Linked DNA regions of Homo sapiens: all the other regions are linked to region 3. The links come from fine-mapping of genetic effects on gene expression. A gene starts in region 3. Each other region holds a variant in brackets. All regions are shown on one strand. Distances are from middle to middle.

Region 1 (8,242 bases), 41 kb before region 3:
AACTAGGACAGGCCCCAGCCATCCCTAAGGCATATCAAAAACGAGGGGAGAATTGGGAGTCTTATTCACATTTCCATCTCTAGTGGCTTGGCCTAGCATAATACCTGGTACCACATTATTGTTTAATTAATAGTTCCTGAATATATTAATGAATTAGCATAACATGAAACTCTGAATGTGGTCATGTTGGGTCAGAACTGTGGTGCGTTAAAGGCAGGATTCATCTACTTATTCATTCATCACTTACTGAACTCCTCCTACCATAATTCAGCTTTAGTTAGGAAAGTGATTCACAATATTGGTTGCATTGGAACCATCTGGAGAGTTTTAAAAATCCAGGCCAGGCACAGTGGCTCGTGCCTGTAATCCTAGTGCTTTAGGAGGCCAAGGCAGAATTGCTTGAGGGCAGGAGTTGAAGGTCACAGTGAGCTGTGCTCATGCCGCTGCACTCCAGCCTGGGCAACAGAACGAGAACCTGTCTCTAACAAAATTTTTTTTTTTAATCCTGAAACCCAGAGATACCCCAGACCAATTACACCAGAATCAAATCCAGGAGTGGTGAGTCCTCAGCATCAGTATTTTTTTTAAAGCTCTGTTCATGATTCCAATGTGCAGCCAAGTTTGAAAGCCACTGGGCTAGGTGCTGGAAATATAAGTGAATATCACAGTGCTCCTGCCCTTGTAGGGATCAAAGTCTACGTGAAGGACACCTGAATTCATTCTGTAGAATATAGTGGGCCGAGCACAGTGGCTCATGCCTGTAATTCCAATACTTTGGGAGGCCGAGATGGGTGGATCACCTGAGGAGTTTGAGACCAGCCCGGCCAACATGGCAAAACCCCATCTCTATTAAAAAAATACAAAAATTAGCCAGGCGTGGTGGTGCGTGCCTGTTGTCCCAGCTACTCGGGAGGCTGCGACAGGAGAATCGCTTGAACCCAGGAGGTGAAGTTTGCAGTGAGACGAGATCTTGTCATTGCACTCCATCCTGGGTGACAGAATGAGAGTATGTCAAAAAAAAAAAAAAAAAGAATATAGTGGTAAATGCCTTAATAGAGATATGGAAACAATACTGTGGGAACCCAGAAGAAGAAATGCTTAGATATGGCTAAGGGATACAGGAAAGCTTCAAAAAAGAAGGAACAGTTAAGATGGACGTCGTAGAATAAATAGAAGTTCATTGACATTTTCCTTCCCTCTGCCTCCCTCCCTTCCTTTTTCTTCCCATCTTCTTTATCAACCTTTCCACCTTTCCTTTGTCCTTTTCATTCTTCTCACCTACTTTGTTTCAGATGGGCTCTGAAATAGGCCCATAAGGAGACAATAGTAAACATAAATGAAATGCTAATCTGCAAGACACATCCTCTTCCTGGAGAAGAGAATACTGTGTGTAGAGCCCCCAAAAACTGAAAGAACCTGGGGTGTTTGGGGACAGCAAGTTCATTTTTGCTGGAGTGCTGTGGGTCAAAATATGGAGGAAATGTCATACCAACAGCCTAAGGAGTTTGAACTTTTCCTTCAAGGCATTTAGGAGCAAAACAATATATGACGAGATTTAAGACAGTGGTGTTTACCACATCTTGGGTGTTACCTGAAGTGACTGTAAATGGTACAGAGATGTACCATTAATTAAAATTGACTCTCACAGATTTTCAAGTCTTAACTTGTATATTTCAGTCCTGATTACCTCCAAGAGAGTCTCAATTTGGTGCTGGGAGGTTTTCAACCTCCCATATAAGATGGGTTTTTAACCCATCTTACTCTTGCTAAGGTTTCTCTTTAACAAAGCAAAGCCTTCCTCACAATATCTGGCTAGAATTAAATCACATTGTTTTATTGTCATCTTGTTTATGCCTATGGAAAGTTCTGTAGATAACAAAAAAAATGATAACTTGTTTTTCATACGTGGTAGTGAAATAAACTTAGGCAAAAAAGTGGATCCATTTAAATACATATATAAAGTAAATGGTGGTATAGGAAAGACATAGATCAGCAAGAATTATAATGGGAATAAGTTAGTAACTGAAGGAGAAAAATGTGGATTTAGAAAGATTGCTTGCAGTTGACATGGGTGGGGACTAGAGGGGGTGAGATTGGAAGCAGGCTGGCCAGATAGGGGGCTGTTGCAGTATCCCAGGTGAGAGCAAACTTGAGCTTAGACCAAGTCAGCCTCCAAAGGATGAACAAAAGGAGTAGGTGGCTGGCCTCTAGAAGGCCAGTGACGGACAGGAGACACCAGAGCATGTTCTAGGGAGGTGACACTGACTGAAGTCCACTGGGTAGGTTCAGGGGAAGATGAGAGAGACCAAGTCCCAGGGCCTGACTCCAGGTCTAAGGTAGTGAAAGTACTGGGCGTGAAGACAAGAACTTTAAATTCCATTACTGGCCTTGGGTGCCAAGATGAGCTCATACACAGAAGAATCAAGGAGCAAGAGGCAGCTTGCTGCTGGATCCCAAACCTGGCTGGGCACCACATTCACCAGGGGAGCTATTAAAAAACAGAGTCATCGGCACCAGTCCAGACCTACTGGATCCTACTGAATCGACTAAGCTGGATCCCAGTGTACGATATATTTCACAGTTCCTCTGATAATTCTTATGAACCCAACCTGGATGTAACCACAGTGTAAAAGCCCTTGCTACACAGTGAGGTTCGTGGGCCAACAGCATGAGCATCACCTGGGAGCTTGTTAGAGATGCAGAATCTCTGGCCCTACCTCAGACCTCCTGAGCCATTTTAATGAGACTCTCAGAAAACTTATTTGCATATGAAGGTTTAGGAAGCACTGGCCTAGACCACTGATTTGTTTAATCCTGGCTGCACACTGGATCACCTGGGGACCTTTAAACCATAGTGGCTGGGAATCTGGGAGTGCGGCCAAGGTATCAATATGAGTTTTTTTTTACATTAAGCCTTTTAGGAACACTCAGTTGTAGGAAATAATATAGAGGAATCCTGCATACACTTTACTCAATTTCCTCCAGTGGTAGCATATTACAAAACTGTAGTAAAATATCACAACCAACATATGGACATAAAGACAGTCGAGTACAGAAGAGTTCCGTCACCAATGTTGCCTTTCTATAGCCACATCCCCTTTCCTTCTCACCTCCCCCATCCCTAAACCCGGCAACCACTAATCTGTTCTCCATTTCTGTAATGGTGTCATTTCAGGAATGTTACATAAATGTCACACAGTTAGTAACCTTTTGGGACTGACTTCTTTCACTTCACATAATTCTCTGGAGACTCATCCAAGTTGATGGGAATAGGACTGGTGCATTTCTTTTTACTACTGTGTAGTATTCCACAGTTGGTTGGTTGCTCATTCACCCATCAAAGGGTAGCTGGTTGTTTCCAGCATTGAGCTATTATGAATAAAACTGCTATAAGCATTCATGTTCAGTTTTTTTTTCTGGGCAAATAAGTTTTAGTTTCTTTGAGATAAATGTCCACGAGTGCAATTACTCAAGTTTATGGTAGTTACATGTTTAGTATTTTAAGAAACTGCCATACTCTTCCAGAATGGTTGTATCATTTTACATTCCCATCAGAAATGTATGAGTGACACAGTTTCTCTGCAGTCTTCATCAGCATTTGGTGTTGCCACTGTCTTTTATTTTAGCCATTCTGATGGCTGTGCAGTGATATCTCGTTGTGGTTTTGACTTGCACTTCTCTGATGGCTAGTAATATTGAACATCTTTTCACATGCGGATGTGCCATCTGTATCATCTGTTTGATGAAATGTTTCCTCATATCATTTGCCCATTTTCTCATTGGATTGTCTGCTTTTTACTGTTGAGTTTTGAGAGTTCTTTATATATTCTGAATAGTAGTCCTTTCTTAGATATGTGGCTGGCAAATATTTTCTCCTTGTCTTTTTATCCTCTTAACAGGGTCTTTCACAGAACGAAAATTTTCCTTTTGATGGGGTCCAATTCATTGTTTTTTCTTTTTATGGATCATGTTTTAGTCACAAGTCTAATAACGTTTTGCTTAGCTGTGGATCCTGAAGATTTCCTCTAATGTGTTTTTCTACAAGTTTTGTAGTTTACATTTTACACTTAATGGTCTGTGGAGCATTTTGAGTTAATTTTTTTTTTTTTTTTTAGACTGAGTCTCGCTCTGTCACCAGGCTGGAGTGCAATGGTGCAATCTTGGCTCACTGCAACACCGCCTCCCGGGTTCAAGCGATTCTGCCTCAGCCTTCCAAGTAGCTGGGAATACAGGTGCGTGCCACCGTGCCCAGCTAATTTTTGTATTTTTAGTAGAGACAGGGTTTCACCATGTTGGCCAGGATGGTCTCAATCTCTTGACCTCATGATCCACTTGCCTCGGCCTCCCAAAGTGCTGGGATTACAGGCATGAGCCACGGTGCCCAGCCTGAGTTAATTTTTTTAAAAGACATATGGTTTAGGTTGTTCATTTTTTGCCTATGACGTCCAATTGTGCCAGCACCATTTGTTGAAAATGCTTTCTCTCCTCCATTAAATTAATTTTGCACCTTTGTCAAAAATCACCTGAGAATATTTGTGTG[GTTCTAT/G]TTCTATTTCTTGCCTCTCTGTTCTATTCTATTGATTTATGTGTCTATTCCTTTGCCAATACCACAAAGTCTTGATTACTGTAGCTATTAATATATAGTAGTTTTGAAATTGGGTAGGTCGATTTCTCCCATTTTATTCTCTTTTTCTCAAAATTATTTGAGTTATTCTAGTTTCTCCACCTTTCCCTATACATTTTAGAAGAGTCTTGTCTATATCCGTAAGACATCTTGCTGATATTTTGATAAGAATTGTATTAAATCTGTACGTTAATTTGGGAAGAATTGACATATTTACTCTGTTGAGACTTCCGATCCATAAACACTCTCCATTTATTTACATCTTTGATTTATTTCATCAGCATGTTTTAGTTTTCAGCACACAGTCCTGTACAAGTTCGTCTGAGAATGTGTTGATTTCCCTTTATTCCTTATAGATATTTTCACTGAGTATAAGAGTCTGGGCTGACAGCTCTTTTCTTTCAGCATCTGAAAAATATAATGCCATTTTCTTCTTGTCTCTATGTTTTCTGTGGGAAATCTGCTATCATTCTCATTATGGTAAGGTGTTTTTCTCTGATACTTTCAAGTTTTTTTGTCTTTCATTTTCAAGAGTTTAATTATTATGTGCTTTGATGTATATTTGGGGGGCTTATCCTGTTTGGTTAACAGCTTCTTGATTCTATAGATTTAGGTCTCTTGCCAAATTTGGGACATTTTCAGCCATTATTTCTCAAAGCACATTATCATTGCCACCCTCTTTCTCATCTCCTTCTGGGACTATGATTATATGAATGTTAGATCTTTTGTTATAGTCCCACAGGACCCTGGAGTTCTGTTTGTTTGTTTGTTTATTATCTCTTTTCTCTCTGATGTTCAGATTTGGGAATTTCTATTGTTTTATCTTCCAGTTCACTGATTCTTTCCTCTGTTCCTACCCTCTTGCTTTTGAGTCCATCAATTGGGTTCTTTTTTGTTGTTGTTGTTGTTTTTCAGGTAGAAATCATGTTTCCTTTTAATTGAATACTTAGTTCACGTTTCCTCTCTTGCTGCTACTCTGGTAATAATTAGGTCCCCACCTCTCAAGAACATTGCACCTGACCAGACTGAGAGCCTGTGTGAACATGGGCCCCAAACCAGGGCTTTCAGAATAACAAGGAACAGCCAAGCCAGCCTCTCCCTTCACTTAGAAAGGAACTGTGAATGGGAGGGTCCAAATCTTCATCGTCCAAACACAGAAAACCAGGAGCTCAATGCCAACATGGAAACCAAAATGTATCGGGAATGAAGTACAGTACCCCTTCACATACTCGAGGTCAGGATGGGTTTGCAGAAATCGTATCTGACCATCTGGCCTCTGCTAGTAGAGGCCCCACCCCAGCATTTTTAGGAGAAGATGTTTTTGTTTCTATTACTTGTATTATTTCCCCAAGGGGCATAATATCTACTAAAAGGAATATAATGAATCAGAATAAATCAGCTCACTCACAAGAAACCTTCCTGGGTAATGGTTTTTAGTTGCTGAGCTTATTCAGCACATGATTTAAAAGTGGCAAAATTCAGGGCAATCTGAGAAGAGAATTCAAAAGTGGCGGCCACAGGTTTGGGTAGGACACACATACATACAACTCCCATTTTTTTTCAGTGTATGTGTCAAGAGGTCAAGACCCCTGATCATCAAAATAAGTTATTTTGTATATTACAGTGCACAGGACAACAGAGGGAAAGACACTTTCTTGGAAGGTGACAACAAGGTCTTTTGCAAAAGGTCCACTCCAAAAGGACTGGAGCCCAGTGCCTTGTGGCCTTCATTAACTTGACCCCACCTCTTCTTTGGTTGCAGTGGCCTCAGTGGGAGCTGTTTCTTCTGCTTGTTCTGCTGGCTTCTTCTCTCTTTCCTCTTCCTCATCCTCATCCTCTTGGGGATAGAGGTCTGGGTATTTCTGCAGGCATTCCTGCATGGCCCGGAACCGGTCTACACAGTCTGACCCCTTGATCTCCTCCGTGCTATAGTGGAAGCAGGAAAAGGCTGACTTGAACTGTTCCCCACAGGGGCCGCTGGCCATTCCCCCAAGGCATGGACGGTTCCAGTTAATGTCTTCATTGGTAGTATCAATCCATGCTCCTCGTATGGATCGTTGGGGTCATCAGCCACCAATTCTGCATTGCTTGGAGTTTCATGGTCTTCTTTGGTTATAAATATGATTCGATCCTTCCCTTCCTGCCGGCAGTAGGACATGGCTGCAGCCCTGCCCTGAGACCTTGCAGAAGTGGCGGTGGCAGCAGCTGTAGCTTCACGCCATGACCTCCCTCTCCTCAGGCAGGGCGGGCACCTCTGGGTTCTTATTTCAATTATTATTTCCATTCTAAATTTCCATTGCTGCTTCTTTATATTTTCTGTTTCTTTGCTGAGACTTATTTTTTTCATGTGTCTCAATTGTGTTCACATTTGCATGTTGAAGCATTTTTATGATGATTACTTTAAATGTTTTGGCCGGGTACGGTGGCTCACGCCTGTAATCCCAGCACTTTGGGAGGCTGAGGTGGGCGGATCACGAGGTCAGGAGATCGAGACCATCCTGGCTAACACAGTGAAACCCCATCTCTACTAAAAATGCAAAAAATTAGCTGGGCGTGGTGGCATGTGTCTGTAGTCCCAGCTACATGGGAGGCTGAGGCAGGAGAATAGCTTGAACCCAGGAGGCAGAGATTGCAGTGAGCCGAGATCACACCACTGCACTCCAGCCTGGGTGACAGAGTGAGACTCCATCTCAAAAAAAAAAAAATGCTATTAGAAATCCCTTCTCATTTTTTGATGTGAAAAATGATTTTCAATTGAAATATGGAAATTTTAGGTATTATAAGACCTAGGATCATATTTAAATCTCCTGATTTATCTGCTTTTGACTGACACTGCTGTAGCAGAGGAAGCCGGAGGACACACGGGGAGAGTATGCTGCCTCATTACTTCCAGGTGGAGGTAGACGTCCTGGCTCCCCACTTCGCTTCTCTTGACACTTGAAGGGCGTGGCTTCCTCACTGTTGCTGAGCAGATGTGGGAGCTCCATCTCCCCACTAGGCCTCTGCAGATAAGTCCCCAGCTGGGAGGGATGAGAGTGCCTCCTCACTGCTCCCCATGCACCCCTACTGACACCATGGGGGTGGGTGCAGGGCTTGTCACCACCTGACAGGATGCAAGTCCCGGCTCCCTGCTAGGAATGGCGGGGACGCCACCCCAGCAAGGGGAGTTGAGTCACTTCATTACAGCTTGACAAGGGTGGAAGTCTTGGCTGCCCTCCCCACTTCACCTCATCTGGCTAGGACAGGAGCGGGGCACAGTGTTTTTCTATGGTGTTTGGCTGAAATAGAGCAGGTGTTGTCTAAAAGTTTTCTACTTTGCTAGGCAGCCTCTTTCCCAGTCCTTTGGCTGGACACAGCAGGCTTTTGTTTTGCCTGTGCCGATTGCCATTTCTGAGCTGCCAGCTACTTCAGGTCAAAATCTCTGATGTATGTGGCCAAAAAAAAGCCCAGGGAATTCATCACTGTGTCGCTCATTGGGCCCCAATGTTCCTCACTGCTTTGCCTTTGCCTCTCCACCTGTCAGAGTCTTCTTGTGTTTGCTTTAAATATAACATCCAGAGTTTTAGTTGTACTAAGCAGAATAGAGAAAGTACCTCTACTCAATCTTCCTGAAAGAAG
Region 2 (8,242 bases), 830 kb before region 3:
TCTTCCTCATATTTGGGCCTGAGCCCCAGTGTGGTTTGGAGCAACTGAAAACTTTCAGGCTTCTGAGCCAGCATCCTGTGCCCTCTATGGGGGAAGAGAGTTCTAGGAATGACCCTTCATTCCCTTTGACAAATGGTTAAGAGCACAAGGTCTGGTCTCATCCAGGCCTGCCTTTCACAGCTGTGCGACGTGGGCGAGTCCGTCAACCCCTCTGTGCCTCGGTTTCCTCACATGCAAAATGGGGGTAGGAGTGGCATCTCCCACGTCAGGGCCTGAGCTGTTGACACAAGGTGGTCACCCCCCAACCGGACCATTACCGGAGCATGGGGCAGCACTTTCCCTCCGGCTCCCATCCTAAATCAGATCCCCTGGTCTTCTGCTGGCCACCAGGTGGTCCCAAATAAGGAGGAAGCAGGGGGGTCTGAGGTTCTCATTGAGGGGGTGGTATGGTTCTTCACCCTGGCCACCTGAGCTCCTACATCTTCCTGGAGGGTCCACAGGCCTCGCAGTCAATCATGAATTCACTAGGCTTAGGATGACCACCCTGTCCCCATTTTGAGGTGAGGCCTAAGCCTTCAAGAGCACTTCTCCAGTATCTGGGCCACTCCAGACCTCTGAGGCTCCCATTCACCCTCATCTGCCTTACGGGTATTTGTGAAGACTCTGCCCTAAGATACTTCTCAACTTGGGCTGCCTATGTTCTTTTGGGGGACTTGTAAAGGTGGACTTTCAGGCAGGGTGACAGGTGGGCAGGAGGTTTAGCTCATTTACTTACACTCTGGAGAAGGTGGGAGGGGTTGGGAAGTGAGGAGGTAGAGGTGGGTATGGCTGCTCTGAGCCTCCGTACCTCTCCTGGCTGGGTCCTTCAGTTCACTGTTCTCAGAATTGAGCCCTGGAGCCTTTTTAAAAGACTCTGGGACTTCAAGCACTATGAATTTAAAAAAGAAATAAAAAAGATATTATAAAAGAAAAAACTACAGCTTAAAGAAATTATCAAGAAGAGAAGCAAAGGCCTGTGTTGAGTTTTGGCTGTCCAGTGGCATTCTGCTTTCCTTTAGGGGATTTGGTCTCCCCAACTGGGAAGAGTCTTGGTGACGATCAGTCAAAGTGTCCCCACCTTCCTGGCCTAAGCGTGGGCATGTGATCAAGCTAGGCCAATCACCTCCCAGGGATGCTGTCTCCTGGGACGTAGAATCAGTGATTTGCTGGTGCCAGCTCACACTTGCTTGTGAGAGCTGATGGCTAAAATTTCAGGTATTTTGTGAGCTGGTTGTTAATTATAGCCATCATTAGAAATCAATTATATAAACCTACAATTATATAAATTATATTTTAAAAGGCAACAAATACCCCAAACTTATCACCTCCTAATTATTTTACTACATTTCACTATTATCTATTCTCTCTAGTAGACAGTCTATTGTATCTGCATGGTAGAAATACCGTATAATGGTGTGCGGCTGCGCCTCTCGTCCCAACTCTGTGTTTAATGATGTCACGTGGGTAACGTGGTGGTATTTACACCAAGGAAATCAGCACCCACTGCAAAAGAGGATTCCCTCGCAACTAGAGAGCTGGGGTTAACATTCACCAGCACAGGCTGCTTTGGAATCCTGAGCTATACAAGGACCAAAAGAAGCTTTTGTAGTGGATTTTTCCCAACCTGCAGTTCCCCAAAGGGACATTTACTTAGTGAGTCGTGCCACTGATCCCTGCATGTCCCCGTTTCCTTCTGGAAAATTGAGCTGGGTTTTCCAGCCTTTGCTCCAACTTGGAGAGCCCACTCCTAAGCTGCCCTCTTGCCTCCACTATGCTGCCCAGTCAGCTTCTGTTGTTTACGACCGACGTGCCTTAGTGGAGCGACATCGGCACACAGGCAGAAACAGGCTGAGGAAAGAACCATCACCCCAGTCTCACCCTTCAGCCACAACATGGGGTACATTCTAGATGTTTCCTGCCAGCCCCTTTCCCCTTGCATCTGTCTTCGTGGAGGTGTTGCCATTGTCAGGACATACGATGCTAAACCCACTTTTTCAACATCACATTATTTCTTGAGCCTCATCCACGTGGCTTTGCATTCTCTGTAACAATCTTTTTCCATAATGTCCCAAAGGCACGTGGAGAAGCTAAAAGGTACTTAGTTACTTTCCTAATGTGGGGCACTTAGGAATTACTTGTCTTCTTTTCCCCTTTAGTGTCACATAGAGACGTGGTTGAAAAATCTGGGACTGTGGATTGGGAGACCTGAGTTCTCATTTAGTTTTGTGCCAGATGGCTGTGTGAGGCTGCGCAAGATGCCTCCCTCTCTGGGCCTCAGCTTCTTAACCTATATAATGATGATGATGATAATGATAATAGTAATAGTAATAATAATAATGATGATGGTCTCCACTTCCAGGGGTTTCCTGGGCAGTGCTAAGTGTGTTGACTCACATCAGCTCATTTATTACTTCTCACAGCCCAGGAATAAGAATGATTTCACAGACTGAGTAAACAGATTCTGAGAGGTGATGTCATTTCCTCAGCACAACATAGCTAGTGGGTGGCAAAGCTGGGGTTCAGACCCAGGATGTCTGCCTCTTAACTCTCTCACCACACTGCCACTTCCTAACGCCCACTTCTTAACGCCCACTGAGCATCGGGCTTGGGGGACAGACACATCAGTACAGCAGTGAGCGTGTCCCTCATTACAGTCCGCTTGCTGTCCTGTTCATGTCCCCACTTTACAGAAGCGAAAGCTTCAGTTCTGAGGACTGAAGTGGTTTTCCCATGTCAGAGTGTTCTGGGCTGAATCATGCTCCCCCAAATCCATATGTTGAAGTCCTAACCCTCAGTACCTTAAAATTGTGGTGGTATTTGGAGATAGAGTCATTGTAGAGATAGGGACACTGCAGATACTAAATTAAGATGAGGCCATTAGGGTGGGCCTAATCCATGCTATGATTGACACCCGTATACAAAGAGGAAATTTGGGCAGAGAGACAGATATGCATAGTGGGAAGATAATGTGAACAGACACTGGGAGAAGATGGCCATCTACAAGCCTCCAGAACTGTGAGAGAATGAATTTCTGTCATTTAAGCCACTCAGTCTGTGGTCTTTGGATGGCGTGGCTGAGCTGAGGCTCTGCAGGGAGCCAGGAGGTTGCAGGGGAGAGCAGGGAGGGGGGTGGCGGGTGTCTCTGCCCCCTGGCCC[A/G]TACCCACTGTGTGCTGGGCAAGTCCCTTCTCTCCTGGGTCTCAGTCTCCCCATGTGCACCCTGGGATTACTGAATCAGATGGTCCTTGAAGGCCCTTCCAGACCTGTTGTCTCATGGGTCCATGAGTCTCTCAGGCTCCTATTCCAGCTGCTCTGACCCCACTGAGCTGGGGTGTGCTGAAGGGGGAGGCCCCAGGGAACACTCCATTCTGCTGTTCTTTCCAGCAGAGCTTTCCCAAGGGCTCACCCAACAGCCTGCCCTCCTCAGTGTGGGCCGTTTCTCCTTCGTCCTACTTCCTGGCGACTGCTCTGTCCAACTGCCTGCCAATCCAGTGTCAGATACTCTCATCACACTGTACCTGCATGTGACACTCTCCTCCGACCTCTGACATCTTCTTTGCCTGCTGCCTGCTCTCTCCCTTTGGGGTGGAGGCTAGGGCAGGTGGGTCCTAGGGAGCCATCGGCTGAGGCACTAATTTCCACTGACTATAAATAACTCTGGGTCTGAAACCACAGCAGGGGCCTGGATTGCACCAGGAGGAGTAAGATAATCGTTGTGGGGTGAGGAGGGCCTGTATAAATAACTTACCCGCCCTGTCTGGGCCTCTCGGATGACAGGCAGGCCTGGAGGCAGAGGATCTCTCCAGCTGAACTCGAGGCGTTTGTGGGACCCAGGCTGGGTGGATGACTCAGGTCCTACTAGCATTCGAGACGGCCCGCCTGCAGTTATACAGCAACATTTCTCACCCCTTAGGCCCGTGTGACAGATGAGGAAACTGAGACCCAGGGAGGAGAAGTAATTGGAAACTGGGGTCTAGGCCCCTGGGCTTCTGGGAGCTAGAGAACTGTTGCCAGGGATGCCCAAATTCTGGTCCCCCGCTAAACCCGACCTTTGGGAGCCAGCGTGGGAGGGCCCTGAAGCTGCTTGGTAGAAAAGGACTGCTGGGCCAAGGCCTGGGGCAAAGGGCCAAGGGCCAAGGGCACTGCCCTGGCCTGGGCACTGATGGGCCAAGGTTTTGAGGTCACGAATTTTCAAGTGAAGAGAGGCCTGGAGTCTGGCTGTGAGTCAGCCACCCTTTGACCCATCTGATGTCTACAGAATGGGGGCATCAAGGCAGACAGTTTCACAGTAGTAGAATGTCTGAGCCTGGACAAGCCTCAGAGACTACTAGACCAACCTTCTTTATTTTCCAGATGGGGAGGCTGAGGCATGGAACAGGGTGGAGGGAGCTTGGAGAGGGTCTCAGTCGATAAGGGCCAAAGTCAGGCTGGTCTCCGCCCCTGCCCAGCATGGGTGGACTGAGCACCCTTTTCCTGCACAGTCACATGCATCCCCTTGGGGCCCCCGCAAAGACCAACTTCGCCTAAGACCCCTGGGCCAGGCACATTGTGTGTTCTCTCATTTAATCCACAGTCAGTGTGGCCCCTGGAAGCCAGACAGTGTCTGCTCCATTTCACAGATTTAACAAATGATGCATTAAGAACTTATGTGATCTGTGCCCCAACCCAGGCTTTTGGATACTCTAGTTTAGCATTTTTCTCCAGTATCAGAGGTTTTCAATTTTTTTTTCTTTTTTTCAACACTTTGTTAAAAAACCAAAGTCTTCAAAGCATTTAAAAAGGAGTATCAGGCCGGGCACAGTGGCTCATGCCTGTAATCCCAGCACTTTGGAAGGCTGAGGCAGGAGGTTCGCTTAAGGCCAGGAGTTCAAGACCAGCTTGGTTCACTGCAATCTTTGCCTCCCGGGTTCAAGTGATTCTTGTGCCTAGCCTCCTGAATAGCTGGGATTACAAGCGTGTACCACCACACCCGGCTAATTTTTGAAACCCTGTTTCTACAAAAAAAAAAATTACCTGGGCATGGTGGCACATGCCTGTAGTCCCAGCTACTTGGGAAGCTGAGGTGGGAGGATCACTGAGCCCAGGAGGTCGAGGCTGCAGTGACCTGTGATCGTGCCACCGCACTCCAGCCTGGGCAACAGAGTGAGACTCTATCTAAAAAAAAAAAAAAAAAAAAAAAAAAAAAAGGAGTGTCTCTGTCTCTGGTTCATGGTGGTGGGTGAGAAGCCCCAGAGTCCCATCCATTCAGCATCCCCTTGTCCTGTAGGGCACTTCTGTGGAACCTCAAGGCACTGGGGAACCCAGTGTGAGAACCATTTCCCCAACCTTCGGTTTCCCTGCATTCAGTGAATTCACTGGCTCTCCATGCACCTGGAGAAGGCTGTACTCAGGGCCTCATCTTATGGAGCTGGAGGCCCATTTCACACTCACAGGGACATAAACACTATTATCCAACCTGACAGTCTACATACACAGCATGAACAAACAGACTAAAAACCAGAGTCTACAAAAATGAATCTGTAGTTCATGGGCTGGAGTCCTCTGTGCTTTGCGATCTGTTCTAGGCTCCAGGCACAGCGAATTCCTCACTGTTCCCTGTACACATCCTGGTTGTCATCACAGGGCCTTTGCTCACGCCCCATTAACTGCGTGTGCTTCCCTCCCCATCTTTGCACACTCAATTCTGCCCTGTCCTTTCAGGCCTCACTCAGAGGAAGCTACTCCTGATTTTGTCCCCAATCAGGTGGGGATCACTCCTCCTTCATCAACCTTTAGAACATTTCCTCTTGCAGTAGTTATTTTTGTCAATAGAAAGCAGCAGACCGAGGAGGTCATGTGTGCACATTTGGGAGCCAGACAGTGTAGGCACCAATCCTGGCCAGGTCACTTGTTAGACGTGGTGCTCTGAGCCTCAATTTCCTCATCTGTAAGCTGGGATGATGACAGTTCCTGTTTCACAGGGGTGATGTGAAGATTATAGGAGAAAATGCCGTGAAGCCTCAGCAGGGAGCCTGGCTGCTGTTAGTGTTCAATGCATGTTAATTATTCTCTAGTATCACAGCTATAACTAGCATCGTGGCTAGTAACTAGTAGCACAGCTAGACTGGGACAGTCTTAAGGCGGGAGCAGTTTACAATCCACCTTTGCACCTCCCTTTCCTGGGAATCTATAGGGAGCTTTGGAGAGTAAGGGGATCTGGAAGGGGTTCCTCCTTCCTCCCCCTGGCTACACTGAGGCCTTGGCTTCCTGCCCTTGGCTGCCATCTTTCCTATTGATTCCTGCCTGCCTCTGTGCCCCTGGAGTTGTTTCCTGTCTTTTTGTTTTTTTTGAGACAGAGTCTCACTCTGTCACCCAGGCTGATCTCGGCTCACTGCAACCTCTGCCTCCCGGGTTCAAGTGATTCTTGTGTCTCAGCCTCCCAAGTAGCTGGGATTACAGGCGTGCGCCATCACACCCAGCTCATTTTTGTATTTTTAGTAGAGATGGGGTTCCACCATGTTGGCCAGGCTGGTCTCGAACTCCTGACCTCAAGTGATCCACCTACCTTGGCCTCCCAAAGTGCTGGGATTACTGGTGCGAGCCACTGCACCCGACATTTCCTGTCTGACATCCTCTGCCCCCTTGAACCAAGAAGGGATATCCTTGAAGGCCGGCCCTGTCCCCATCTGCCCACCTGTCCTGTGTGTAGCCACATCACACAGACACTGCCCCTGAGAAAGCATATGGGAGAGATCTGGGTCTCTTCCCAGAAGAGTACATGTGGCCCAAGCCTGCACATACTAGGTGCATAACATATATTTGTCCAATAAATAAATGTGTGTCCACCTCCATCACTGCTTGGCATATTAGAAGCAGGGGGAAGCAATGGAGATGTTCCATCAGTTCTAGGAGGTGGGTGTTATTATCATATCATTTACAGGTGGGGAAACAGGTTCAGAGTGAGGGGATGACTTAAGGACTTAGAAGGTGAAGCTGGGACTCAAAGTCAATGGTCTCCATATTCCTTCCCTTTTCTGGGCACATAGTAGGCACTTAGTGATTAGTGCATATTGATTCTGCAAAATGATAATGCCTTCATAGTAAGAATCAGGGCCCCCTTCCTCTCCAAGCCTTTGTGTCCTACTCAAGGGGCTGCTGTGAGGATCCCAGGGAACAATGTGTTGGGAAGGCCTGGCTCTTAGTTCGCTCACAGTAAATGAGAGCCAGGGTAGTTTTGGGACTCAGGCCTCTGCATGGTGGGTCTGCCTAATGCTCTGCCTAAAGTGAGGCCCCGTGGAAATGCTGCCCTTACAACCCATCTCTTCTACCACCTCTCTGGGTGCCTGATTACGGGAAGCACCTAGTGAGCCAAGCAGCATCGCTCACGGGACATGAAGACTCCCTAGTCTTGCTGGAATCACCGGGAAGCCCTTCAGTCAGCTGCCGGGCAGGATCTTTATCTATCTGTCCCGTGCTCTCCCTGCCACCCCGTGGCCTGCAGAATTATTTGCCCAGCAGACTCTACCACCCCAGCCTATGACCATCGATAGCATGCATTGATTAACATGTAGGTTTATTTTATTGATGATTCAGAAGGATATGCAGGCAGCATTCTGGAAAGCATCCACACATGATTCATTGGAACTTCACATTAAACTGTGCTTTTGAAGGATTTTTTTTACCCCATGGTAGTGGTGATGGGGGGAGGTGTATAATAAGCATTGCAAATCAAATATGGGGCTGACATTTTTTTTAACCAAGACTCACATGCATTGCTCAAGCCCATTGATCTACCAAACAAGCTGCCTTTCTCTTCTTCACTAATTAAAACCCAACGTCTCCCTTGAAGCCACACAGAGAGTTCCCAGCAGAGAATAATAACAGTAATGCTGAAATAACACCTACCATGTGCCAGGCACTAAGTGCTTTGCACATATTACTTTAATGCTTACAGCGACCCTATGAAAGAGGCACTGTTATGACCTCATGTTACAGATGAAGAAACTGAGGCACAGTTAGATAACTGGTCCAACGTCCCACAGCTGGATAAGAAGTGGTGCCAGGATTTGCACCATGATACCAAGTTGGCCTCTTCCCCACTGTGACACTAGTCATAGACCCAGTCAGCCTGGACGGTCCCAGCTCATGCCTAGCACCCTGGTGTAATTACTAACGGTGCCGTGGTTTGGCTGGTAGAATCTTTAGCCATGTTATATTTCAGGTGGTT
Region 3 (8,242 bases):
ATGGTGGTGTGTTCTTGTAATCCCAGCTTCTAGGGAGGCTGAGGCAGGAGAATTGCTCACCATATTCTAGGAAGGCTGAGGCAGGAGAATTGCTTGAAACCAGGAGGCAGAGGTTGCAGTGAGCAGAGATGCGCCATTGCATTCCAGCCTGGGCAACAGAGTGAGACTCCATCTCAAAAAAAAAAAAAAAGAAAAAAGAAAAAAAGGGAGTAAAAGAATGGCTACTCCATAGGCAGTGTGTGGTGGCATGGGCTGCTCAATTGATTATGCTAATAGTTACTTCTTGATTATATGCTAAACAAGGGGTGGATTATTCATGAGTTTTCTGGGAAAGGGGTGGGCAATTCCTGGGACTGAGGGTTCCTCCCCTTTTCAGACTGCATAAGGCAACTTTCTGACATTGCCTTGGCATCTGTAAAAGGTCATGGCAATGGTGGGAGTGTCTTTTAGCATGCTAATGCATTATAATTAGCGTATAATAAGCAATGAGGATGACCAGAGGTCACTCTCGTCACCATTTTGGTTTTGGTGGGTTTTGGCACGTTTCTTTAGCACAACCTTTATCAGCAAGGTCTTTGTGACCTCTGTCATACCCTGATCTCCAGTTTTATCCTGTGAGTAAGAATGCCCAACCTCCTGGGAATGCAGCCCAATAGGTCTCAGCCTTACTTTACTCAGCCCCTATTCAAGATGGAGTCATTCTGGTTCAAATGCCTCTGACAGTAAAGGTTAAGAAATCCTTCTTGGCCAGGTGCAGTGGCTCACGCCTGTAATCGCAGCGCTTTGGGAAGCCGAGGTGAGCAGATCACCTGAGGTCAGGAGTTTGAGATCAGGCGGGCTAACATGGTAAAACTCCGTTTCTACTAAAAATACAAAAAATTAGCCGGGTGTGGTGGCATGCACCTGTAATCCCAGCTACTTGGGAGGCTGAGGCAGAAGAATCGCTTGAACCCGGGCGGTGGAGGTTGCAGTGAGCCAAGATTGCGCCATTGCACTCCAGCTTGGGCAACAAGAGTGAAACTCCATCTCAAAAAAATAAATAAATAAAAAAAAAAGGCTGGGCGTGGTGGCTCACACCTGTAATCTCAGCACTTTGGGAGGCTGAGGCGGGTGGATCATGAGGTCAGGAGATCGAGTCCATCCTGGCTAACATGGTGAAACCCTGTCTCTACTAAAAATACAAAAAATTAGCCGGGCGAGGTGGTGGGCGCCTATAGTCCCAGCTACTTGGGAGGCTGAGGCAGGAGAATGTCATGGACCTGGGAGGCGGAGCTTGCAGTGAGCCAAGATTGTGCCACTGCACTCCAGCCTGGGTGACAGAGCGAGACTCCGTCTCAAAAAAAAAAAAAAAAAGGAAAAAGAAATCCTTGCTGGGCAAGGTGGCTCACACTTGTATTCCCAGCACTTTGTGAGGTGAAGGTGGGAGGATCACTTGAGTCCAGTAGTTCAAGACCAGCCCTGGCAACATAGCAAGACCCAGTCTCTACAAAAAATGAGAAAATTAGCCCGGCATGATGGCATGCACCTGTAGTCCCAGCTACTCAGGAGGCTGAGGTGGGAGGATCCCTGGAGCTCAGGAGGTTGAGTCTGCAGTGAGCTATGATCACTCCACTGTACTCTATCCTGGGTAACAGAGGGAGACCCCGTCTCAAAAAAAAAAAAAAAAAAAGATAAAGCAAAAAAGAGAAATCTTTCTTAACCTTTTTGTGCTTCAGAAAATGTTCACTACAAAGAAATACCCATTCTCATGTCACTTAAATGACTCCTGGTTGCCTCCCTTGTTTACTGTGGCAAGGTCAAACACAGTCCTTCTGAATTCCCATTCTTTGCCTCATAAATGATTACAGAGCTGCTTGTCTCCATTGACCAGTTGGAAAAAATGCTTATTAACCAAACTTGGGTTAAGCTTCTTTCCTTTCCCCAGGCTCCTTACTTTAACCTACTCTCAGCTTGAACTAGCATACTGTCTCATGTGTCCGTGTGAAGAGACTACCAAACAGGCTTTGTGTGAGCAACAAGGCTGTTTATTTCACCTGGGTGCAGGTGGGCTGAGTCCAAAAAGAGAGTCAGCAAAGGGTGGTGGGATTATCATTGGTTCTTATAGGTTTTGGGATAGGCGGTGGAGTTAAAAGCAATGTTTTGGGGGTAGGGGGTGGATCTCACAAAGTACATTCTCAAGGGTGGTGAGAATTACAAAGAAACTTCTTAAGGGTGGGGGAGACTATAAAAGAACCTTCTTAAGGGTGGGGGAGATTACAAAGTACATTGATCAGTTAGGGTGGGGCAGAAACAAATCACAATGGTGGAATGTCATCAGTTAAGGCTATTTTCACTTCTGCGGATCTTCAGTTGCTGCAAGCCATCTGGATGTATACGTGCAGGTCACTGGGGATATGATGGCTTAGCTTGGGCTCAGAGACTGACACACACAACCCCTACTGAGAATAGGTTGGCCTCAAGATAAAACATTCTCTAATCTACTATCTGATCAAGCCACCCCTTCATCCCACTTCCCATATTCGGTTGTTTCCAGCCTTGTTTACCTGCCTTTGGGGAGGGTGGGGGGTGGGGGAACCCTCTTTTTCCCTAACCATTGAAACATCTGCGGATGTTTTGGTCAGAGTGATCTCACTATTGCAATAGTCTCCCTCTGCTATTGCACGGTTCCTTCTCTCCCACCTCTCTCACTTCTTGCAGTAATCCTTTCTTTTTTTTTTTTTTTGAGACGGAGTCTCGCTCTGTCGCCCAGGCTGGAGTGCAGTGGTGGGATCTCGGCTCACTGCAAGCTCCGCCTCCCGGGTTCACGCCATTCTCCTGCCTCAGCCTCCCAAGTAGCTGGGACTACAGGCGCCCGCCACCACGCCCGGCTAATTTTTTTGTATTTTTAGTAGAGACGGGGTTTCACCGTTTTAGCCGGGATGGTCTCGATCTCCTGACCTCGTGATCCGCCCGCCTCGGCCTCCCAAAGTGCTGTGATTACAGGCGTGAGCCACCGCGCCGGGCCTGCAGTAATCCTTTCTAATAAGTATCCTTATTAGTCTGGATTTGTTTTCTTATTTGCCAGAATCAAACAAACTTCAGATTACGTTCCTGGCCCAAAAGCCCTTTAACTTTCAGCAAGCCACCTAACTTTTCTTAGATTCTGTTCTTTCATATATAACTTGGGGATATGTTTCAGGACTCTTGTGAGGATTAGAGATGTAAAACCCTGAAAACATGGTGGCTAGTTAATTAATAGCAGTCATCGCTCTTGTTGTTATGAGTCTAGAGTGGTATATCAGAGTTAATTTGTGAAAGGCCTTACAGGCCAGACAGAGAAACTTGTCATAATCACTGCTGTATCTTCAACACCTGTCCAGTGCTTTGCACGCGCAGAGTATCTAACCAAGTATTGAGAGGGAATAACTTTATCTCACTGACAGTGAGGAGCTGTGAGAATGATGGCTGGTTTAGAAAAGGCAGGTTGGTCACTGTCGACGTTCACTGGCCTTTTCCTACTAAAATTCTCATCTCCTGGCTCTCCACACCTGCCACCCTGATGGCCCCTGTGCTGCGTTTGATGCCGCCTCTCCTGGAGAATGACCATGGTGATCATTCCTGTCATCCTCTGAAATCAAAAGAGAGAACGTGGGCACTTTCTTAAAAGCCTGAAGGGAATGTAGACATTCCGACATCTGGTAAGGGAGACGCTCTCCATCGCTTCCCCCGGGGGCGTCACCGCCCCCTGATGCCCCGCCCTCCTCACGACTCAAGTTCCTCCCACTTAGCTCGGTGCTAGGGGCGCATTTCCCCGGCATGCCTCTGCTCCTTTGCGCACGCGCGCCGCTTCCCAGTGGCAAGCGCGGGCAGGACCGCGTTGCGTCATCGGGGCGCGCGCCTCAGAGAGAGCTGTGGTTGCCGGAAGTTGAGCGGCGGTAAGTGAGCCGCGGCGGGCGAGGGTGTAGTGGGGTCTTGCTGGGCCGGTTTTGGAGGCCTGGAGTCAAGGGGCGAGCTCGCCAGGGAGGGCGAGGGTCACAGCAAGTCTCAGGATCCTCCTCTGCCAGTTTCTGGGTGGTCCTTCCTCCTCCAGGGACTCACTGATTCCGGCTGGCGCCCTTCGTCTGTAGCCGCGTCCCCTCAGACTGGTTCAGTCCGGGGTCTTCTGACTTGGAAGCTCGTGCTGATTTCCTAAGTCAGCCCCTCCTGTCCTCTTGGTAGGCAGTGCTCAGAATCTTCAGTGTTGGAACACGGGAGATGGGACATTTGGATTCCCAGCCTGGCTGTGTCTGGATTTGCTGTCTCTGGCACGTTCCTTCCCCATCTAAGCTGCTTTTCCATCTGCAAAATGGGAATGATAATCCGCCATTTGTTTAAGTGAGGAGGTTAAATAAGTTTACTTTCTGAGAAAGAAGATTCTCGATTCCTTGGTTACAGGGTTAGAAACTAATGCACAATAAGAATCAATCCGGTAAGGTAAATATAGGTGTTAGAACATTTGTCAGAAATAGAGTCAAACTTCTAATTTTATAAGTACAGTACTAACGTACATGATGTTGGAGAAGTACAAGCCAAACCGTGTGTGTGTGCACGTGCGTGCAGTTTCCTGATTTTTAAACACTGGCGACTGATGCCATTTTTTAAAAATTGGCAAGTAATTCTGGCGTTTAAAAACATTGGCAACTCAGTTTTTACAAAACCCTGTTCAACTGTAACCAGTCATATCTGTGGCTGTCAGTTTGGGACCTCTGGATCCCAGACTCCCTTTTTCATTGACTACTTAGATTTTTTTCTCTGACACCTCTGCCCACTGGCCAGATTTCTTCAGTGACAGAAAGCTTTCTACTTCTGGTTGCTCCTGTTTGGTCCTCCCCCAGTTCTGACTCTTAGGTTGAGCTGAAAGCAGCTACTCGGTAATCTTAGCTCACTGTTCCTCCTTCAGGCTCTTGGAATCACCCCTGCATTTAATTGCCCTATACATCATTGAAAGCTGCTAGTTTGTCTTCCTCTTCTCACCTTTTCTTCTCTAGGCTAAGCATATTTAATGTATTTGCTCATAGTAAACTTAACAGTGACAGCAAATTTTGTCATGTTTTGTTATATCCCCAGCATATAGAGCAATGCCTAGCATATTATATATGCTCAATAAATATTTGTTGGATGAATGAATAAAACAAATATTTGCCTGTTATGTGCCTGGCATTATTGTGGGCACTGGTGATCTATCAGTAAAATAAGAAGAAAAAGAACCCTGTTTCATGGCACCTTCTAATAATAGTGGTGGTGGTGGCGGTGGCGGCATTGTCAGTAAGGGTTGGTAGGTGTTTCCGATTCTGAAACGTACAGGGTCATGGGATGGACAGTAATTGGGGGGAAGCATAAAAGCTAGCTAGTCAGGGATGGCTTCCCTGAGGAAGTGACCTAACACTTGAATAAAGAAAAGTCCAGTCTTGGAATGGCTCATGTTGCTAAACTGCTTTCCCATCCCCCAACGCTGCTCCAGTCTTGTTAAGCTGCTTGCAGGTGTGTGTCACCTATAGCCCTTTGCTTCTGCTGCTTCGAACATCTCCCCTTCCTCTTCCATTTATCTTGGCCAACTCCTTCCTGCCCTCATGTGACATGATTTTGAAATCCTTTAAGAGCTGAGTACTGGACTTTCCATTACTCAACCACAGGTTCCGTTTTTCGTTCCCAGCCAGCATCTCATTATAGAGAATAAACATTTATTGAGCTTCAGCTGTGTGTCTGGCACTGCGCTGCAAGCTGGGAATACAAAAATGAGTAAGATACACATCCCTGTCCTCAAAGAGTTTACTTTTTTTTTAAGCCAAGGAGATAGCAACGGTATGGCATGAAGCTATTGCGGAGGTTTGGTAGAGGAGGACTTAGGGTACGCATAAGTCAGGCTGACTCATCAGAGAAGGTTTCAGTGAGGAGGTGCTGCTTTAGCCAAGACCTGAAGGACGAACGAGATCTGACAGGTGAAGAGTGGTTCGAAGTGAGATGAGCAAAGGGCTAGAGGTGAGAATGCATGGCCTGCTTGTGGTTCACTGGAGTGCCAGTGTGGAGGTGTAGGATGAGAGGTGACTGGAAAGGTAAGCACTAGCCACATCGTGAAGGGCCCTGTGGACAATAGCATGTTACCCGCACATAGACTTTGGGATCCAAGATAGCTGCGTACCAATATTCCCATTGCCACTGAACTAGTTTTGTGACCCTGGGCAAGTCACTTCTTTCTAAGCTTCAGTTTCCTCATCTCTAAGAAGGGGAAATAAAAACTGTACGAGGTGATATGTTACTCACTTGACACTGGTAGATGATAAATACTCAATAAACAGTAGTCATTAATATTGCCAGGCCCAGAAGTTTGGACTCTAAAATGTGGGGGCGGGGGTGGAGAGCAGGACACTGAAGATTTTAAAACAGATGCGACATCCTCTCATCTGTTTTAAATTACCCAGGCAGCAATGTGGTGATTACACTGGACAGAAAAAGACAAGCAGGGGACCAGTTGGGTATAGTTGCAGTGATCCAGGTGACAGGATGAAGATCTGGATGAAGGCAGTGACAGTGGAGATGGAGAGGAGTGGGAGGAGTTGAGAGATTAAGGAGGTGGAATTTGCTGGACTTGGTAACTGATAGGATGAAACAGAAGAAGGGGACAAGAATCAGGATCCTGATGACGGGAGGGCAGAAATGAATTTGCTGTGTGGAATTGAGCAGTAACAAAATTCTTTGACTAGTGTCTCTAATAGATTAACCCTGACCTCTGATTTTATTTGGAATTCAGTTTGCCTCTGTCGTCCACTTCTACCCATGGAAATGACGTTCGCTAATGTCTTCCTCTCCTCTTTTTTTTTTTTTCTTTTTTTTTGAGATGGAGTCTCACTCTGTCGCCCAGGCTGGAGTGCAGTGGCACGATCTCGGCTCACTGCAAGCTCTGCCTCCTGGGTTCACTCCATACTCCTGCCTCAGCCTCCCCAGGAACTGGGACTACAGGTGCCCACCACCATGCCCGGCTAATTTTTTTTTTTTTTTTTTTTTTTTAGTAGAGATGGGGTTTCACTGTGCTAGCCAGGATGGTCTCCATCTCCTGACCTCGTGATCCGCCTGCCTCAGCCTCTCAAAGTGCTGAGATTACAGGCGTGAGCCACCGCTTCCTCTCCCCTTTCTATCTCCTGATCTCCCCACCCTTCTCCAGTGCGATTAAGGCCTGATTGTATAATCAAGGGACAATAAATACTGGAGGTGCTGCTCTGTTAATTGGTAGTCAGTAGGTATTACCATGATCTTGGCAGACTGAGGAATAGCCTATTCACTCCATCTCAGACCGGCTTCAGAATGATCACTTTTGGGATTTCCTCACACCTTCATCCCAGTTACCATCCTTGAACTTGCTCTGGTTTGTCAGCCTCTCTTTGAGTGTGTGGTACAGAAAGGAAATCCTCTTTCCTTGAGGACTCTAACCATGCAGAGCAAGACTGCACTTTTCTTGTGGTAACCTAAAGCCCTGCCAGCTCCATTATAGACACATTGTGCTTTTGACACTATTACACTAGTGTGCCACCAAATAGGCCCTCAGCGTGGCTCAGCCCTCCCCATATCCTCAGGCAGCTCTCTTGTCCATTTCCCTTTATGTCTTCCTCATATTCATTCCTCTCCTCAACCTCCTACCTTGACTTTTGCTCCACTAAGTTGCAGCCATTAATTAAGGCATCGCAGCTTCCTCTTCTATCCTTTACCAACTGATCTTTAGCTGACCCTATCCTTTTGCCTTTTATTCTAATTCTGTGAAAGAAATGGTGTTTTAAGACTAAGTCCTCTATTTGTGCTTGAGATCCCATCGCCTCCTTTGCCTCAAGGACTGGGTTCCATCATTTGTTCATTTTCTTTTCTGTTTCATCAACCCTTCTCATTTAAATATTCTCTGTTTACTCTCATTTTGGAAAAAACAAAAACCCTCCAATTAACCTATGCTGCACCCTGTCACACCTCTTTTACCCAGCCACCTTTCTTGGAAGAGTTATCTAGAGTTGCTTCCTGTACTTCCCTAAGTCATTGCTAAAATCCTGCTCTCGTCCCACCACTCCCCAAAGTCATCAGACCTCGACATTGCCAGAATACCTGACCACTTTTCCTTCTTATCTTTCTTGGCACATCTGACATTGCTGACCTTGCCCCTCACTTAGGAAAACCCAGTCCTACTTTGTATTATCTCTCTGGCCATTTGTCCCTCAATTTCCATTGTGGGCTCCTTTCTTCCCCT
Region 4 (8,242 bases), 170 kb after region 3:
CAGCAATGCCTGTCTACTTCCCCATGAGATCCACCTGGCACTCCTACTAGTCTTAAACCATTATCTCCCTTGAAAAATGAGTTCTGGCTCACTCCTTACTACTAAGGCTGAGGGGCAAAGGAGATTATATAAATGAAAGCACCATGCATGTTTGAGGTGGTTTCCTTTTCTTCGTTGTTGTTTTTTGAGACAGGGTCTCACCTTGTCACCCAGGCTGGAGTGCAGTGGCACAATCTTGGCTCACTGCAGCCTCAACCTTCCAAGCTCAAGTGATCCTCCCAACCTCATCCTCCTGAGTAGCTGGGGCCACAGGCATGTGTCACTATGTCTGGCTAATTTTTTGTATCTTAGTAGAGACAGGGTTTTGCCATGTTGCCCAGGCTGGTCTTGAACTCCTGGGCTCAAATGATCCACCTGCCTCAGCCTCCCAAAGTGTTGGGATTACAGGCCTGAGTGGGATTACAGGTCTGAGTCACTGCACCTGGCCGAGGAGGTTTGTATTATTACTTGTGAATGGAGGAATAACTTGAGCTTTAGAAAAGTTAAAGTGACAAAGATCAAGAAAATTTCCCCCCCTGCTTTTTTCTCTTATATTTTAATATTTCCAAATGAGCTATAACATATGCAGAAAAAAGCTTAAAACATTTTATATAGAGAACAAGTATGAATTAAACACCCAGGTCAAAAAATACTCTCGTTGCCCTTCACCCATCTCATATTTTACTTTCTGACCACAGGCCTAGAAGTAACTAGTAACTAGAAACAGTAAACTTTTCCTGTACAACTTCAGTCTGGTATATGGGTCTTAAACAATATAATTCTATTTGCCTGACTTTGAATTTTTCAAACAGAATTATGCTATAATATGTAGATTCTTTCGTGTCTTGTTTTGCCCAATATTGTAAAGGTTACCCATTTGCTGTGCGGCTAAAGTTCATTTTCGTTGCTATGTAGTGTTTCATAATTGGATATATTGAAATTTCTCCTCTACGGTAGCATTTCTAGTCTCAGATTATAATGAAGTGTGCTGTTTGGAGCATTCTGGTATATATCTCCTGGGGTTCATGTGCAGCATTTCTCTGGGTGTTTCTCAACCTTCTTTTCATTATCACTCCTCCTAGGGGGATAATTTAATGCCAACAGTTTAGAATTTAATTAATACTAAAGAATAGGGTTTGTCAGATAGGGCTGAGCTTTGGAGAGCCACTAAACACTGTCATATCTAAGATTTCTTTTGCCTGCCAAAGACCAATTTTTGCTCCTTTGGGGGTGATATCACCCTCTTTGTGAAGGCATACTGTAAGTTATTTATCTCATACTAGAATTGTTGGGTCGTAGAAAATATGCCTCTTCTGGACCATGGACTTAAATGTAAAACCCAAAACTATTAAAACCCTGGAAGACATCCAGACATCCTGGCCCTTACTTCTGGACATAGGAACAGGCAAAAATTTCATGATGATGCCAAAAACAATTGCAACAAAAGCAAAAATTGACAAATGGGATCTAATTAAACTAAAGAGCTTCTGCACAGCAAAAGAAACTATCAGTAAATAGATAATCTACAGAATGGGAGAAAATTTTCTCAAACTATGCATCTGACAAAGGTCTAATATCCAGCACTACAAGGAATTTAGACAAATTTACAAGGAAAAAACCCCATTAAAAAGTGGGCAAAGGACATAAACACACACTTCTAAAAGAAGACATACATGTGGCGAAAAAGCATATGTTAAAAAGCTCATCATCACTAGTCATTAGAGAAATACAAATCAAAACCACAGTGAAATACATCTCACACCAGTCAGAACGGCTATTATGAAAAAGTCAAACAATAGATGCTGGCGAGGTTGTGGTGAAAAAGGAACGCTTATACACTATTGGTGGAAGTGTAAATTAGTTAAATCGTTGTAGAAAGCAGTGTGGAGATTCTTCAAAGACCTATAAACAGAAATACCATTTGACCCAGCAATCCCATTACTGGGTATATACCCAAAGGAATATAAATCATTCTGCCATAAAGACACGTGCACACAGATGTTCACTGCAGCACTATTCACAATAGCGAAGACATAGAATCAACTTAAATGCCCATCAGTGGTAGACTGGATAAAGAAAATGTAGTACATATACACCATGGAATACTATGCAGCCATAAAAAAGAAGATCATGGATGGAGCTGGAGGCCTTTATCCTTACAAACTCATCGAGGAGCAGAAAACCTAATACCATATGTTATCACTTATAAGTGGGAGCTGAATCATGAGAACACATGGACACATGGGAACAACACACACTAGGGTCTGGTGGAGGATGGAGGGTGGGAGGAGGAAGAGGATCAGGAAAAATAACTAATGGGCACCAGGCCTAATACCTGGGTGATGAAATAATCTGTACGACAAGTCCCCATGTCATGGGTTTACCTATATAATAAGCCTGCACATATACCCCTGAACTTACAAGTTTCAAAAAAAGAAAATATGCATCTTCAATTTTATTAAATCATGACTGTTTTCCAAAGCAGTTCACTGACTTACATGAATACCAGTAGTATATGGTAGTTTCTGTGGTCCCTTATCCTTGCCAGAATCTTGGTACTGTCACATTTTAAAATTTTTGCCAATCTGTATAACAGTATCATATTAGGCTTTTACTTTGCATTTTCCTGATCACTGATGATGTTAAACGTCTTATGTATATTACTTATTTGGATTCTTCTTTTCTGATAGTTTCTCTACTTCAACTCCAAAAATTTTCATATGTTATGCTTGTGTAGCCCCTGTGAAAAGAAAGCACAGTAGGATGACCTAGTTATTCACTTGAAAAGTATGATGGAGCCCAGCGACCTTTGTTCTAATCCCAGATGTTTGACTTGGTCAGAGTCCCACACCTCTGGCCCTCAGCATCCTCATTTGCTAAATAAAAGTATTGGCTGGGTTAGAGCAGCAGTTCTGAACCTTGGCTGCCCATCAGAATTATCTAGGATGCTTTAAAAAAATGTTTAGACCACATCTGCACCAGAAAGCCTGATTAAATTGGATTAAAGGTTACTATATCCATTTCAACATTCTGTGATAACGATAGAATAAGTCTTTAACACCTAGATTTCATGGTTTCAATCATCTTCCTTGTCTGCACCCTGAATTAAGTATGCCAGAGACTCTTTATTTGTAAGACTATAATCTACTTTTGTAAATGCGTTATATAAAGGAGGAGACTCCTTAATTTAGTCCGTAGGGGAAACTTGGCGTCATCATTCAAAATACTTTATTGTATCTGGTTTACTTTTAGCACTAAGAAGATTTTCTTACATTGATACCTACTGTGACAAAACACACATCCAATGACAGTGTTAAAATGTCATAAATGAGCCTTTAAAAGAATGAGGCACATGATACATCATGGTACTTGAGCAGACTGCAAGCCTGACCAGACTGAATTCATGAATTCCTGACTTTTGACTTCTTCCTGTAAGATGCTACCCCACTGCCAGGGACTCAACCTCTAAATCCAGTCAAGGGGCTACTTGGGCCTGGAACCAAGGCACAGTCAAGGTGAACCAGCTATGCTCCAGGGGGAGGTGGTTGAAATCACTGGTCTCCTGGACTGGGCCATGAGTGATGGTTATTGGGGCTGGGGAGGTATGAGAGACATCGTGTTGTCCATCTACCTCTGTGTATCTTCAAAGGTCTCTGTAATAAAAAGTTTTCTGAAATTTACTGCCTGACATCAAGTCAGTGGTGTTTTTTAGTGTCCGTCTGTCACATGTAACCATATCACATGTGATCAGTATCTGACACTTGGGTGGCACCTTGTCTTTTTCAGAGGGCATTTACTTGCATTTACTCACTTGATCATCATAGCAGTCATTTTCAGTGAAAAACCTTTTGTAGCCATCCATACCCTGGTTACAAGTGATAGAAACCAAAAGCTTGAACTCTTTTTAGCATAAAAGAGTAATTTATTGGCTGGACACAGTGGCTTACGCCTGTAATCCCAGCACTTTGGGAGGCTGAGGCGGGTGGATCATGAGGTCAGGAATTCGAGACCAGCCTGGCCAACATGGTGAAACCCCATCTCTACTAAAAATATAGAAAAAATTAGCCTGGTGTGGTGGCAGGCATCTGTAATCCCAACTACTCAGGAGGCTGCAACAGGAGAATCACTTGAACCTGGGAGGTGGAGGTTGCAGTGAGCCGAGATCACACCATTGCACTCCAGCCCGGGCAACAGTGCAAGACTCCGTCTCAGGGAAAAAAAAAAAAAAAGTAATTTATTGCTTAATGAAACCAGGTCATGAAATCTGGGCTTCAAGGACTCTAGATGGGGGCATTTAGTGTCAAGACCATCTTAGTGTTCATCAGCTCTGTTCTTTGTTGGCTTTATTCTCTCTCACTACCAACAAGTTCTTTTCTTCCCCATATAGCAAGAAACATGGACTCGGGCAGTTCCAAAATCTCATTCTTACATTAAGAAATCTTTCCTAGTGGCTCCAAAAAGAAAATCCCAGATAAGGACTGTGATTGGCCAGGCCTGGGTCACATGCCATCTCTGGACAGCTGGCAGTAGAAAGGGAAGGGCTGCCATGATTGGCCAGCCTGGGCCAGGGGCAGGTCATACTGATTGGCAGCCTCCCTCAGAACTACACGGTTGGAGTGATGGGGGATGGTCCTCCTCAACAAACTGATGCAGATGGATGGGTGTTGGGCATATATGATAGAAGTCCATTGTAAGTTCAGTCTCCTCTTAGTTCTATTCCTGTGTCTGTTCCTGTCCCTTCCAAACAATGCTGCTTTTCTATCAGCAATTCATTATTAAGGAGTTGAGTGAAAGTCATGAAATTCCAGTCCCCAGATTTGTCCCCAAGCTTGACTCACTCTGCTTTCTGGATTTACCCCCATCTTCTCACCTAACCACAGATACCAGAAAAGAAGTCTTTATTCACTGAGGCTTTGAAAAAA[T/C]TAGCTGCACAGTCTTCCTTACCACCACCTCCAAACAAAGAACTTTCTCTGAGATTGGAGCACAGTGCCTCCTCCTTTCTCCTTGCTACACAGAAGCCTCATTCTAGGCTTTTCCTCCTTCCAGGCTCCTCCATGCTCTCCTGAGGCCACCTCTTGGGGCGGGGAAGGGGAGTGCTCTCTCTGGCTGCTTCTGCTCACCCAGGGTGGACTCAGGAGCTGGAGCCCCTGAGGTCAGCATGAGGCTTCATCTCTCAGCCCAGATGGCCAGGCTCAGTGACAGCATCTCTGCTTCAGGACATGTGCCTTTAGTCTCCTCCATAGTCTAAAAACTTACTTGCCGTGCTGAAACTTGTTGATAAAACCAAATCTGTAATCAGGAACATAAACCAACACAATACAGGCCTTGCACAAATGAGCAGTTGTGGGGTATCATGGGCCCCTGTGGATTATTTGACTGAAGAGAATGATGGAGGCAAAGCTGGTTGTTGTTGAACAAATTGCTGCCAGATGTAGATTTCAATAAACACCACACTGTTGTTCCCCTGCCCGAAGGTGCTATGAATTTCTTGAGGCAACAGAGGCATCAGTAAACGGGGCAGTGGGGTGGGTAAGGGGGTCGCTGTTCCAATATGAATGGAGCCTCCTAGTGTTTTCTGTCCCTGGATGTTTGTCCACAGAATCCAAGGCAGGCCCTGGGGGTCTCTCTCCCCTGCCTGACATTTTACACCAGAGTAATATACTTAAACTGTAGCAACCAGACTCTGTGGAACCTAAAAGAAACCTGGAATTAGGGTAAAAATGTCACACAAAGTCTGTATTGAGGGTTAACTGTAAGACATGATGAACAAAGCACATCATCCTTCCCTTCATTGAACTTACAAATGGGAGGGAGATGAGTGCTAAAGCAGTAATTACAAATAAATAACAGACAAGCCTTCAAACATCCTGTGAAGGAATGCAGCGTGAGCTTGTAATGCAGAGGCCACTGTCTCTGCCTTCACCATCTGCTAACTAATAAGCTAGGTGGGCCAAAATATGAGCCTATTAGCTGGGCATGATGGCTCATGCCTGTAGTCCCAGCTATTCAGGAGGCTGGGGTGGGAGGATTGCTTGAGTCCAGAAGTTTGAGGCTGCAGTGAGCTATGATTGCCACTGCACTCCAGCCTGGGTGATGGAACAAGACCCCATCTCTTAAACCAACAACAACAAAAAACCCTGAGATTTGGGGCCTGTAAGGCCCCAGAGTCTTCACTACCCTTGGTGGCTGTACTTTTAAGGGAATGAAAAGGAGAGAGAGATTGAGATTGAGACTGAGAGGGTGAGAGAGAGTATGATTGGTTTTAGTTAGTATACAAAGAAGCTTCTCATGTTCCATACAATGGAGTGATTCTAGAGAGAATGATTTTCCCGACCCTTCCCTTGGGTTATGGCTCGCTAAATCAAGCATCAGATGAACGCTTGGCATAAATCTAACGTGTGTATTTGGATCACCAGAGAACTATGTGGTTTTCTAATCCCGTTGTCCCAGTTAGATGCAAAGCTTCTGGAGGACAAGGGCCACACCTTTCCCCCTTTGTGCCCTCAAACACTAACAGGCGCTTTGCCATAGTACTTGGAAAAATATATATTAGTTGAATGATAGGACAAAAAAGCGGTTGTAGATGGAAAACGCATTAACTGCTGAGAACACGTTTTCATTTTGAGTTGTCTATAAGAGTTTAAGGGGCAGGGAAGCCCTGGAGTTGAAGTAAATTCAACAGCATCAAGTTTTGTGTTTGGCCCTCAATAAACTAGTCTCTCTGTACCCCTGGCAGGGGGTGGGAGGAGTCCTGGGGGAGCTCCCTTCCAAATCTTACAGGGTGGTCTGTTTCTTCTTTGGATAATAATGATGTAATGGCTAGTCTCTTGAGAACTTGCTGTGTTCCATACATTGTACTAAGCATTTATTTGGATTATCTCATTAAATCTTCACAATCACTTTATTTAACAGATGGAGAAATTAAGGCACATGGAACCTAAGTGTTCAAGGTCATGGAGCCAGTAAGTGTTAGAGCCAAGTCGTTTGGCTCCAGAGCCTGTGTTCTTAACTACTACTTTGTAGTGTCTTTCTTACATATTAGTTGGGCCTGTGTATTGCTAGTTGAATTCCTCTTCCCAGTGGCAGGCCTTCACGTGTTTGACCATGGTTTTCATGTTCTCCAAACCTCAGTTCTCTAGATTTGTACTTTGGTAGGTCATCATTTTCCACAGATCCTACCTCTTTAGGTCAGAAAATCTTGCCAGTTTATAAAGATTCTCTGGGACTAACTCCCACAAAGCAAGGTCACAAGAGATCAATGTACAAATGAAGCAGTTCAGTGAGTTTTGTCTACCATTCTCCATAAGTACATGGGAGACAACTGATGATTGGAAGGTTTGGTGTTCACCTCATGGAGCTGTGATATCTCACTCACCACACAGATCTGCTCTTCTGAGGGACCATCTTGCCAATTTCCAGAGAGTTGCAGGGATATTAAATTTTTGCACATTAAGCTTCCTCTTTCCAAGCTGCACATGGGCCCTGCTACCGTTTGTGAACAGTCTTCTAGAGTGATATAGGTTCTAGCTTTCTTAGTTAAGATCGTATTTTCTGATACCACTCCCTTGTCACTTTGCCTGAAATGAGAAACTCCCAACCTCAACTGCTTTTCTAGTCTCTTCCAATGAATGCCTTCCAAAGGGCTGGTGTCCTCCAGGGTGTATTAGTTGTTACTAATTTCATCCTCCAAGGCTGATCTGATTTTCAAGATCTGTAGAGAGACCTTAGTATATTGCCTTGCCTGTACCAAATACAGTCATTATGGCACAGGAAAATCTCAAATACCTTATTGGAAACCCAGGACAAATATTTATTTGACCTTAATGAAATGAAAAAGACATTGGATGCATACATTTAAAGAAAACCCAAAACTTTGGAATCTTTACCAAGGAGGGTATCTTTTGAAAAGGACAGGCTGGAACAAGAACTTGATAAAATAGAAGTAAAGGTTGACACTTTTTTTTTTTTTTTTTTGAGATCTATATCACTCTGTCACCCAGGCTGGAGTGTAGTGGCATGATCTTGGCTCACTGAAACCTCGGCCTCCTGGGTACAAGTGATTCTCATGCCTCAGCCTCCTGAGTAGCTGGCACTATAGGCATATGCCACCATGCCCAGCTAATTTTTGTATTTTTAGTAGAGACAGGGTTTTACCATGTTGGCTAGCTGGTCCTGACCTCCTGGCCTCAAGTGATCCACCCGA

The links. PIP is the estimated chance that this variant, and not a neighbour inherited with it, causes the effect. A credible set is the group of variants that fine-mapping cannot tell apart.
Region 1: its variant is the best candidate, but not a certain one, in a credible set for the expression of ATG7 in whole blood (TOPMed, PIP 0.52).
Region 2: its variant is the best candidate, but not a certain one, in a credible set for the expression of ATG7 in cerebral cortex (GTEx, PIP 0.70).
Region 4: its variant is the best candidate, but not a certain one, in a credible set for the expression of ATG7 in whole blood (INTERVAL, PIP 0.74).

Annotation. Positions count from the first base shown.
Region 1 is chr3:11,227,899-11,236,140 of GRCh38, forward strand. All of the region lies in intron 1 of HRH1 (histamine receptor H1), which reads left to right. It also overlaps the pseudogene CHCHD4P4. Among named protein-coding and RNA genes, the nearest start is that of ATG7, 40 kb to the right of the region's middle. The variant GTTCTAT/G (reference allele first, on the strand shown) is at 4,541.
Region 2 is chr3:10,434,909-10,443,150 of GRCh38, forward strand. The region is part of intron 2 of ATP2B2 (ATPase plasma membrane Ca2+ transporting 2); the gene reads right to left. Among named protein-coding and RNA genes, the nearest start is that of MIR885, 44 kb to the left of the region's middle. The variant A/G (reference allele first, on the strand shown) is at 3,196.
Region 3 is chr3:11,268,517-11,276,758 of GRCh38, forward strand. It overlaps ATG7 (autophagy related 7), which reads left to right and starts at 3,881. Exons shown (of 21, transcript NM_001349232.2): 1 at 3,881-3,914. RefSeq lists enhancers at 3,479-3,528, 3,485-4,076, 3,799-3,928, 4,077-4,666.
Region 4 is chr3:11,443,218-11,451,459 of GRCh38, forward strand. The region is part of intron 20 of ATG7 (autophagy related 7); the gene reads left to right. Among named protein-coding and RNA genes, the nearest start is that of ATG7, 170 kb to the left of the region's middle. The variant T/C (reference allele first, on the strand shown) is at 4,962.